Linked DNA regions of Homo sapiens. The protein of the gene in region 3 purifies or fractionates together with the protein of the main gene of each other region. This does not show direct contact. Each region holds a gene or a part of one and is shown on either strand. Other genes may lie near its edges.

The links.
Region 1: the proteins of FMNL3 (region 3) and PALM2AKAP2 purify together in Homo sapiens (affinity purification with mass spectrometry; one large-scale study listed by BioGRID and IntAct). This does not show direct contact.
Region 2: the proteins of FMNL3 (region 3) and WDR55 purify together in Homo sapiens (co-immunoprecipitation; one large-scale study listed by IntAct). This does not show direct contact.

Annotation. Positions count from the first base shown.
Region 1 is NC_000009.12:110,133,089-110,136,742, forward strand, and holds part of PALM2AKAP2 (PALM2-AKAP2 protein isoform 3 (PALM2-AKAP2)), read left to right. Parts: intron 1-3,038; coding exon 3,039-3,654. UniProt on the Homo sapiens protein: Binds to regulatory subunit (RII) of protein kinase A. May be involved in establishing polarity in signaling systems or in integrating PKA-RII isoforms with downstream effectors to capture, amplify and focus diffuse, trans-cellular signals carried by cAMP.
Region 2 is NC_000005.10:140,667,827-140,670,451, reverse strand, and holds part of WDR55 (WD repeat-containing protein 55), read right to left. Parts: intron 2,219-2,625; coding exon 2,118-2,218; intron 2,038-2,117; coding exon 1,950-2,037; intron 1,841-1,949; coding exon 1,661-1,840; intron 1,562-1,660; coding exon 1,462-1,561; intron 1,374-1,461; coding exon 1,204-1,373; intron 1,120-1,203; coding exon 798-1,119; 3' UTR 1-797. UniProt on the Homo sapiens protein: Nucleolar protein that acts as a modulator of rRNA synthesis. Plays a central role during organogenesis.
Region 3 is NC_000012.12:49,651,771-49,655,424, forward strand, and holds part of FMNL3 (formin-like protein 3), read right to left. Parts: intron 3,215-3,654; coding exon 3,140-3,214; intron 2,533-3,139; coding exon 2,422-2,532; intron 2,105-2,421; coding exon 1,955-2,104; intron 1,558-1,954; coding exon 1,456-1,557; intron 443-1,455; coding exon 163-442; intron 1-162. UniProt on the Homo sapiens protein: Plays a role in the regulation of cell morphology and cytoskeletal organization. Required in the control of cell shape and migration. Required for developmental angiogenesis.

The DNA.
Region 1 (3,654 bases), on a different chromosome or scaffold from region 3:
TTCTAGTTCAAAAAGGGTGCCTTGGAAAGAGCTGATACAATTTTTGAATCCTAAAAAGAAAACGTGGAAAGTCATCTGCTCATTCATCATCGAGCACTTGAAGTGTGAAACATTCAACAGAAAGGGATAATGCTGATGTGAGGAGCGGAAAAGTGTTCTTGGGAAATGGCTTTGGAGATAAGCCCCATCACTCCTTCCTCTGTGATTAGCAACAAGAGACAAAGAGAAGCAATTTCTTCACTTGCCTGATTCAGACTAAGAAAACTCTAATATAGACTTAGGGCTTTCTTGGAAGTACAGAGAACTCATTTTTTTTTTAAAGGGTGTTGTCTTCTGGAGCTTATTGTTGCTGCTAATTTCATTATGACCCTGCAGAATAACCTCCCCTCATGTTTAATGAACGGATTAATTAATTAAACTATAGAACTAATTATTTGCCTTTTAGTTTCCTTTACTATTACGTTGCCCTTCTTCCTCTCCTCAGGTATTCTAAAGCATCTTGTGTTTCAGGAGAGCAGTGTTTTCTAACCATATTTCAGTCCTACCAGCTTCCTACTGATTTCCCACTACCCTCCGCCCACCCCGGCCCCCAAGCCAAAAAGGATAGAAGGAGAGCTCTGTTGTTCCCATGCAGAATATTAGCAGTGAGTCATTGGCCAAAAGAAGCCAGGGGTGAGGGTGCCATAGGTAATCTGACTCATCTTAGCAGTACCGTGAATCTCTCTTTGTTTGTCTTCTTATTTCAATAATAATTTTCCATGGAGTGGGCTAATTTTGGCCTAGGTTTACTTGAAATTGAATGGCAGCCAGTAAGTTTCAGCATTCAAATTTTGTGTAATGCTTAATGATATATGAGTAGAAGTTACTGACAATGTCTCATCCAACAAAAAGTTTAGTTAATAGTTTTAAAAGGGCTGGCCATGCAGGGTGGCTCATGCCTGTAATCCCAGCACTCTGGGAGGCCAAGGCTGGACTGCTTGAGTCCAGGAGTTTGAGACCAGCCTGGGCAACATAGCGAGACTCTATCTCTACAAAAAATTTTAAAAATTAGCCAGGCATGGTAATGCCCACCTGTAGTCCTAAGGGAGACTGAGGCAGGAGGATCCCATGAGCTCAGGAGTTCAAGGTTGCAGTGAGCTATGATCACATCACTGTGCTCCAGCCTGGGCAACAGAGCAAGAGCCTGTCTCTTAAAAAAAAAAAGGAAGGTGGTGGCAAAAACTACTATTTAATGATGGTCAAAAATAAAAAATAAAGATATTAGCAATTATAAATATTAATTGTGTTAAGTATCACTCCTTAACAAAGACCAGACCTAGACTGGAAGAAAATCAGAGAATGGAAGATGTTGACAAAAGAGGAACACTCATTATTTGTGCCTGTTAATGGAGAAGACATATACATTACTTGAATAATTTAAGTCTGAAAGGAAATGTGGAAAGTGAAGAGTGAAGGAAACCCCCCAGTTCATGGATAACTCAGAGAGTTTTTCAACATTCTGACAGCAGTGTAGAGCACTTACGATGAACTCCAGTGTTTTCTTAGGTCTCAAGAACAAATCCATAATTATCCACTTTTTTGGGAAGGATTTTGAAATTAATTTCCTGAGAATCGTCCTAAGGTGGTGTTTTAATATTCTAAGCATTTAAAATTGTTGAAACCTTAGATAAATGAAAATTACACTCTCTTGCAATTTTGCATTGTCCTATGTCAATAATACCAGGCACATTATAAACTTGAGACAGGGAAACAAAGCCAACCTAGGTGTTGTAAGGTCCTTGATGGTAACTCAAATTAAGTTTATACTTTACTGGAATTCTTTGAGATAAGCCAGAGTCCTTTGATATGAAAAAGAAAATCATCTTATAATTTGAAAATTAATGTTTCTAATGCCAAATAACAAAATTACATAGGCTAGATAACTGGTAGAAAAATAAGATGGATGGGTTGGGTGTGGTGGCTCATGTCTGTAATCCCAGCACTTCGGGAGGCTGAGGCGGGCAGATTACTTGAGTACAGGAGTTCAAGACCAGCCTGGGAGACATGGAGGAACTCTGTCTCTACAAAAAAAAAAAAATATATAAATATATATATATATATAAATCAGCCAGGGGTGATGGCACACACCGGTAGTCCCAGGAGGTAGAGGTTGCAATGAGCCGAGATGGCACACTGCACTCCAGCCTGGGCCACAGAGCAAAATCCCATCTCAAAAAAAAAAAAAAAAAAAAAAAAAGCCCTCAAGACAAAAAACCTCCTTCCTTAAAAAAAAAAAAAAAAGAAAAATATGATGGGTTTTAAAACATTAAGAAGATAGGGTTTTCTTATTGAATCACAAACTGAAGATATCACATATAAAGCAGTTAAAAAACTGGAGGAGAGGTACCATTGGCCATTAGTTTTTCAAAGCAGTGCTGACTTCTTAACTAAAGAGTATTATTTTGATGCAATCCCAGAAAACAGAGCTGTGCAGTCAGTGGCTTTGGTGATGGTGTTCATAAGGCACATGGTCAATTACAGCCATGGCAGTGAGGCACTGTAGCCTGTGTGCTGCCATTAAAGGGATCTACTGTTTTCCAGTATTTTATTCTGCAAAGATTTTCCAAAAAGTTTCTTGTCTCCAGAATAACTGCATTACATCTGGCAGAGAGTCATATGTTTTAAAGATCTGTTCATACAAAAGGACCTTCTTTTTGCAATCCTATTAATAGTCGTATTGCACAGCCTGCAATCATTTGCCGCAAAATACTTGGGAAGACTCTGGTACAATAATGATGTAATCTCTTCCACCTTAGTAGATAAAATTTAAAAATGGCACTAGCATGTAAACAAAATGGAATCCATAAATTAGAGAGGATTGGGCACCTGTTACTACAAGAAAATGAACATTTAAGGGATTATTAGAAAATATCTATTCAAAAGAATTTGTCACTGTGGTTTCCATTTTCCTTCCTCTTAATTATGAGTCAGTTTGTCAGCATTCACATCCATAAGAGATGCAGTATTTAACCCTGACTTTTGTTTACTCTTTATTCCAGAAGCCTCCCCAGCTTTCTGAGGATGATATCTGGCTAAAAAGCGAGGGAGACAACTATAGTGCCACCCTCCTGGAGCCTGCTGCCAGCTCTCTTTCCCCAGATCACAAAAACATGGAAATTGAGGTGTCTGTTGCAGAATGTAAAAGTGTTCCTGGAATCACCTCTACCCCACATCCCATGGACCATCCCTCCGCTTTCTATTCACCCCCGCATAATGGCCTCCTTACTGATCACCACGAATCCCTGGATAATGATGTTGCCAGAGAGATCCGCTATCTAGATGAGGTGCTAGAGGCCAACTGCTGTGATTCTGCTGTGGATGGAACGTACAATGGAACATCCTCCCCAGAGCCTGGTGCAGTGGTTCTGGTGGGCGGCCTAAGCCCCCCTGTCCACGAGGCGACCCAGCCAGAACCCACTGAAAGAACAGCTAGCCGGCAGGCACCTCCTCACATCGAGCTCAGTAATAGCAGCCCTGACCCCATGGCAGAGGCAGAAAGAACAAATGGCCATTCCCCCAGCCAGCCTAGAGATGCGCTGGGGGACAGCCTGCAGGTGCCTGTCAGCCCCAGCTCCACAACCAGCTCACGGTGTTCTTCCCGAGATGGAGAGTTCA
Region 2 (2,625 bases), on a different chromosome or scaffold from region 3:
GCTTGAACCCGGGAGGCGGAGGTTGCAGTGAGCCAAGATCACGCCATTGCACTCCAGCCCTGGCAACAAGAGCGAAACCCTGTCTCAAAAAAAAAAAAAAAAAAAATTTCATATCCAGCCAGGCACAGTGGCTCATGCCTGTAATCCCAGCATTTTGGGAGGCCAAGGCAGGAGGATCACTTGAGCCCAGGAGTTCCAAGACCAGCTTGGTCAACATAGTGAAACCCCTGGTCTCTACCAAAAAAAAATCACAAAAATTAGTCAAGCATGGTGGCAGATGCCTGTTAAGTCTCAGCTACCAGGCAGGCTGAGGTGGATCACTTGAGCCCAGGAAGTCAAGGATGCAGTGAGCCATGATCAACCCACTGTACTCCAGCCTGGGTGACAGAGTGAGACCTTGTCTCAAAAAATATAAATTTTTTTGGCCAGGTGTGGTGGCTCGTGCCTGTAATCCCAGCACTTTGGGAAGCAGAGGCAGGTGGATCATTTGAGTCCAGGAGTTGAAGACCAGCCTGGGCAAAACAGACCCGTTTCTACCAAAAAAAAAAAACAAAAATTGGCCTGGTGTGGTAGTGCACACCTGTAGTCCCAGCTGCTCCAGAGGCTAAGGTGGAAGGACAATCTGAGCCTGGGGACATTGAGGCTGCAGTGAGCCAAGATCAAGCCAGCGCACTCCAGCCTGGACGATGGCAAAACCCTGTCTTTTCAAAAAATAATTCATATCCTCTCTGGGGATGCAGCCCAATAAGCAAGACTCTTGCCTGGTGAGGACCCGTCTCAAGATTCAATTCATTCCTTCAGTCACTGTCATCCCCAGTCTCCTCCTTTTCTTCCTGAGCCATGGAGTCTTCTCCCTCTTCCCTCAGTCCTGCGAAGAAGTCATCGGTGCTCCAAGTCTTGCTGCTCAGAGCCCGCAGTGGTCCTCCCTTTTTTTTGCGCCGACGGTAGTCATCCACCACCACAGCTCGCAGCTGGGCCATGTCCCAAAACTTGAGGCGCTGGTCATGGCCACTACTGGCCAGGAAGCGGCCACAGTGGGAGAGGGCCAGCTCCTCCACAGGCTCCCCAGTGTGCTGGCCCACACTGCCCACCACTCGGTTCGGTAGGATGTTCACAGCCCTGGGCAGGGAAAGAACAGTGTTGAGTACTGGCTAGCTGGGTCTGCCCTTCCTGTGACCTAAGGGCTGTCCAGGCTTCCCTCACCTGATGACTCCATCAGTGGAGCCAGTACACAGCAGACTCTCGGTGACTGGAACCATGCAGTCGATAGATTCAGCTCTCAGGGCAAAGCGGTCACTTGTGGCCCCAAAGCCATTCCAATTGAAGAGGTAGATGGTACCTTCACTGGAGCCACAGGCTACCTTCTTCCCCCACTGCAGGGAAATAGAGAAAACAATGTGGAAGCTGCCTCAGACTAAGCCCCCAGCACACACCCCTCCATCCCACCATAACCAGCTGTACTTTCATGAGAGTGACAGAGGTCAGGTCCCCAGACTGAGGTTCTGAGAGCAGCTCAAACCGACGCCTCTTAATGTTGAAGATGCCAAGGCAGCCATCCCCGCTGTAGAGAGTAGAGCAGTAGGCTTAGACGCAAGGTCTATTTGAGGAAGACATTTCACACAGGGAGGGGAGGGGAGGCAAGGCAGCTTTGAAGTTGTACCTGGCTGTCAGCAGCAGCTTTTTGGCTGGATCCAGAGCCATGTCTGCGATGTACTCTTCATGTTGCCTCATATCCATTAAGGGGCCCTCCTTCCGCTGGTCCCAGAGACAGATACCACCTGTGTCATCCCCAGTGGCCAGAACATTCTCATCCACCAGCAGAAGACTATTGATGGGGGCACTAGAGACACAGATGTAGAACTTCTTGGAGCATCTCTGTCCCAGTGGGGACCTCCTGGTCCTTACCCTTCACCTCCATGCACATACACAGAATTGGCTGCTCTCCTTACCCATGAGCCTTGGAAACACGTCTTTCCAGTTGGCCCTGCTCCACATCTAGAACATGGATGGCTTTGTCCTTGGAGACAGTAATGAGCTCTGGGGAAAAGGTGCCCAGGTCATGGTGCTGCTCACTGCTCCCTTCCACCACATTGCTGGTTGTCTTCCCCAGTACTCACTCTGCCCATCTTCAGAGAAGGCCACAGCTCGGCAGGCCTTGAGATGGTGACCTGATGACCAGAGCTCCTTGGTTTCTCCCTCTTGGCAAGAGTAGGAAAAGCTGGGGAGAGGGCAAGGAGGGTAAATGACTCCAGACCCAGCCTGGGTTGCATTGAGTGCAGAGACCAACTAGACAGAGCAGCCTTCCCACCTACCTAAGAGTTCCTGCTTCTACACCTCTAAGCCCAAAAAGTTTACCATCTCATTTCTCCATTTTCAGTGAGTTTGAAATGTTAGGTCCTGCTTTTTTCAATATATGTTAGTTCAAGGTATATTTGCGCAAGATTTCTTTGTGATCCCACCCAACCCCTCTTTATCATCTTTGAAAGCCCCAGCCTGGACAAAGATTGGGTCTGGACCACTGTGGAGGAGATATTTGTTACATCAATGACAAAAGACCAGCCCCAGAAGTTAGAAATCTAAAAATCAGTAAGGTAGAGCAGGCTCTTGCACTTCAGGTCTGCAGGA
Region 3 (3,654 bases):
TTCCCTCAGATTCCAGGCCTCCCTCACCCTGATTTTATATCCCTCCAAGTCCTCAGATAATGCCATTTTCCCAGCTTCTCCCTGAGGAAGACACTGCTGACTACAGTTTTGGTCCCCACAAAGAGGCTGCCCCTGTTGGCTCCCAGGGGTCGTCGTGGTTACCTGGTAATGGGGGAGGTGGAGGGGGCAAGGGCGGAGCTGGTGGTGGAGGAAGAGGCAGGACCTCCTCAGGGGGTGGGGCTGGAGCCAGAAGGTCCAGGTCGGAGGGTGGCATGCCCTCACTCAGCTCTGCAGGGCCTACTCTGGCCAGGGCCTCACTGTCCACAGACTCCAGGCCCCGGACATTTGGCTCCAAATGACATCGACGCTGAAAGGCCTCCTCCTTCTCTTTAATGAGCCTCCGCAGGGTGTGCACCTGGTGGCTTGTGTTCTCATATGTCTCCTGGCAGGCAGACAGCACCATTAAGGGAAAAGTGGGCTGAAGGCATAGTCATTGCCCCAAGAGTGAGAATTCCTACCCAGGGTTCTCTTAACGAGGGTCTCTGTCAGGGTACTCAGAGGCTCAGAGTGGCAGAAACCCAGGTGGGGGAATGAGGAAGCTGGAAGGCAGCAAAACAAAAGAGGCAAGCAGAAGCTGCCTCCCTCCGCTGGCACCCTGAAGTGTCCTCTCTGCTCCAGCCAATTCTCACTGCATGGGCCCCTCAAAGCCCAGGAAAAAAGGTTGCCCCTGTGAAACTCTCCTTAATCTACCACCGGTCTGACATAGCGGCTCTCTCCATAACCCTTTGGGCCTCATTTTGCTTTAATTTCACTTGGCCTTGTATAATGGCTCAATTGGAAGCCCCCTATAAACAAGACCCTGTCTTAACCATCTCTGTATCCTCCATAGCTCCCAATACAATGCTCAGCAGAAGCTGGGCAGATACATATTGAGCTCAACAGAGCCAGCATATATTCTTCTGAAAGAGAAAGTAGGATGGGGGCATGACTTTATAATGAACAAAAAGTCAGGAGAAAATACAGAAGAGAATGAAATATGAAGAGTACCTGCCCTGCCAATTTAGGATACCTGGTGGACATCCTAATACACAGAGCACTTGGTCACTCTGCCCCTGCTCATTAAACATGGCTGGGGGAGGAACACGGGGGTAGAGGGGAGAAAAATCAATGGGATGGGCTGGTAGGAGGAGGCCTGGGTTGGAACTCCAGAATGCTTGTGGGTGCCCCAGCTGTTCCCACCCTCTTATGTGTGTGTCTGGCTCACACTGGCCCCACCTTTCCTCTCCAACTAAAAAAATGGGGTGAAATCATCAGCCCACCCACACCTGAGTACCTCAAGGGTGAATCAAGATCTAAATCCTAGAGAACTTGATATGACTCAGGGAAAAAAAGCAGAACCCCAAGGCGCTGGAGCCCAGGATCAGTCAGGGACTGCCTTCCCCAGAGTACTTGTACCTTGATGCTCTCTAGTTCCTTCTCCCGCTGTAGCAGCTGCTTCTCTAGTTCTGCCACCCGCATCATGTTTTCATTCTCTAGGTCCAGAAGCTTCTCTGTGAGCTGCACAACAGGAAGGGCAGGTTCTGTGCTGGCCCTAAAGCCTGGGCACTCAGCACAGCCTGAACCCTAGTCAAGACCTGAGTCGGACCCCTCAACACAAGGCCACAAAGGCAGCTTAGTCAGGTGGTTCCCTTATATTCCAATAACAGATACAAGACAAAGGCCACATTCTGACTGTCTCAAGACCAATGCCACCTCATGCCCAGCCCTGGAGGTCGATGTGTATTCCAACTGGTGGATGATCCAGTGGCTCAGGCCTGAGTATGCTCTTGAGAGCCCTGGTGGGTTCTAAAGCCTCCCTGGGACTCAATCTGGAGGCAAATGGGTCAGCTCAGGATTCCTGGTTACTTGAGCTTCCATCAACAGTGGCTCTGGCAGGCAAAGGAAGACCACCTACATGGGACACATGCTCCTCCAACTCCTCCACCTTCTCCAGGGCTACATTCTTGGTCTCAGCATCCTCCAACAAACCCCCGACATCAAACACGTTGTCCAGATATGCCTGAATCTGCACCTGCAGCTTCTCGCTCTCTGTGTGCCTTGACTTCTGGGGGAAGAGCAGAGAGTAGGAGTAGTTGTAGGAGCAGGCAGATCATCAGGGGAACTTTCTGAGAAAGTCTTAGTCCTCATCCCCCTTCGCCACCACTTCCCAAAGAGTTCCTGCTGCAGGCCATGTCAGATTCTCGCCCCCATGGAGCTGCCTGACTGGGGAGTTAGCTGCAGAGGTCCTGAGTCCCAGGCTACAGAAGACAGGCAGGGTCCCAGGAGCATCAAGGATTAGGCACTTATAAAAGAAAAATCATTTGTGATACGGCTAAACTGATCCCAAAGCACCTCACCTTACAAGGACCCCAGCCAGCTCACCTGCAGGAACTCCTCTAGCCCCAGCTTGGTAAACTCATACTGCAGGTGGACCCGGAAGTTCATGTCCTCCACCGAGTGCACCACGATGTTGATGAACTGCATGCAGGCCACCTGAAGAAGAGGAGGCCCAGAGAAGCAGCAACAGGAAGGGCAGAGGAAAGGCAAGAGACCAGGAGGATAGGCGGCTGTTAGAATATCATCATCATGTGGATAATTACAGGGAGTCAATTAAAGAGTTAAGTCTTTATGGGGGCAATAAGAGTATTTTAATTTTAAAAATGTCATTTAATATTCAGTGTATAAAGACAAGTAAATTACATGAAAAACAGATGTAAGTGAAGATATAGCTATCTGATTTCCTTTGTACATCAACAGGTATTCCTCGAGACAACCTTACCTAGCCAAAGACCCTGCAGTGAGGGGAAGAGAAGCTAGAGGAAGAGCTTAGGAAAGGGAGGGCAGCTCAAAAAGGATCCAATTCAAGGACAAAAAGGCCACAGAAAAGAGGAAAAGGAGGTAGATCTGATATACACAAATGATATCCTGAAGTTTCTAAGAGCTCTCTGGGGTAGGCAGGTGGACAAGAAGCATTTGCTGAATAGAATCATTCTGGGCTCTACGTGGAATATCAAGATACGCTGTTGGCCTCACCCCTGTTGTCAAGGAACACACACACAGCCCTGGTGGGTATGTGCTGGACCCAGGCCCAGTTCCTCACCATGAAGTCAATATTGCTGTCCTCATTCCGGAAATACTCCATCAGCTTCTCAAAGCGGTGCAGCTCCTTGCATACCTGAATGAGCAAACTTTCTCAGTGAAAGGATCTGCTCCATGCAGAACCCAAGCCCCTGCGCTCTGGCTCCTAGGAACATCATGGCAAAGGACTGGTTCAGACCAAGCTTAACCACAGCTCTATATATGAAATAGGCCATTCTGGACACTATAAAAGAAAACCTGGGGCCAGGCGCGGTGGCTCACACCTATAATCCCAGCACTTTGGGAGGCCGAGATGGGCACATCACCTGAGGTTAGGAGTTCAAGAACAGCCTGGGCAACATGGTGAAACCCCATCTCTACTCAAAATACAAAAATTAGCCGGGCATGGTGGCACATGCCTGTAGTCCCAGCTACTTGGGAGGCAGAGGCAGAAGAATCGCTTGAACCTGGGAGGTGGAAGTTGCAGTGAGCTGAGATTGTGCCACTGCACTCCAGCCTGGCCACAGAGTGAGACTC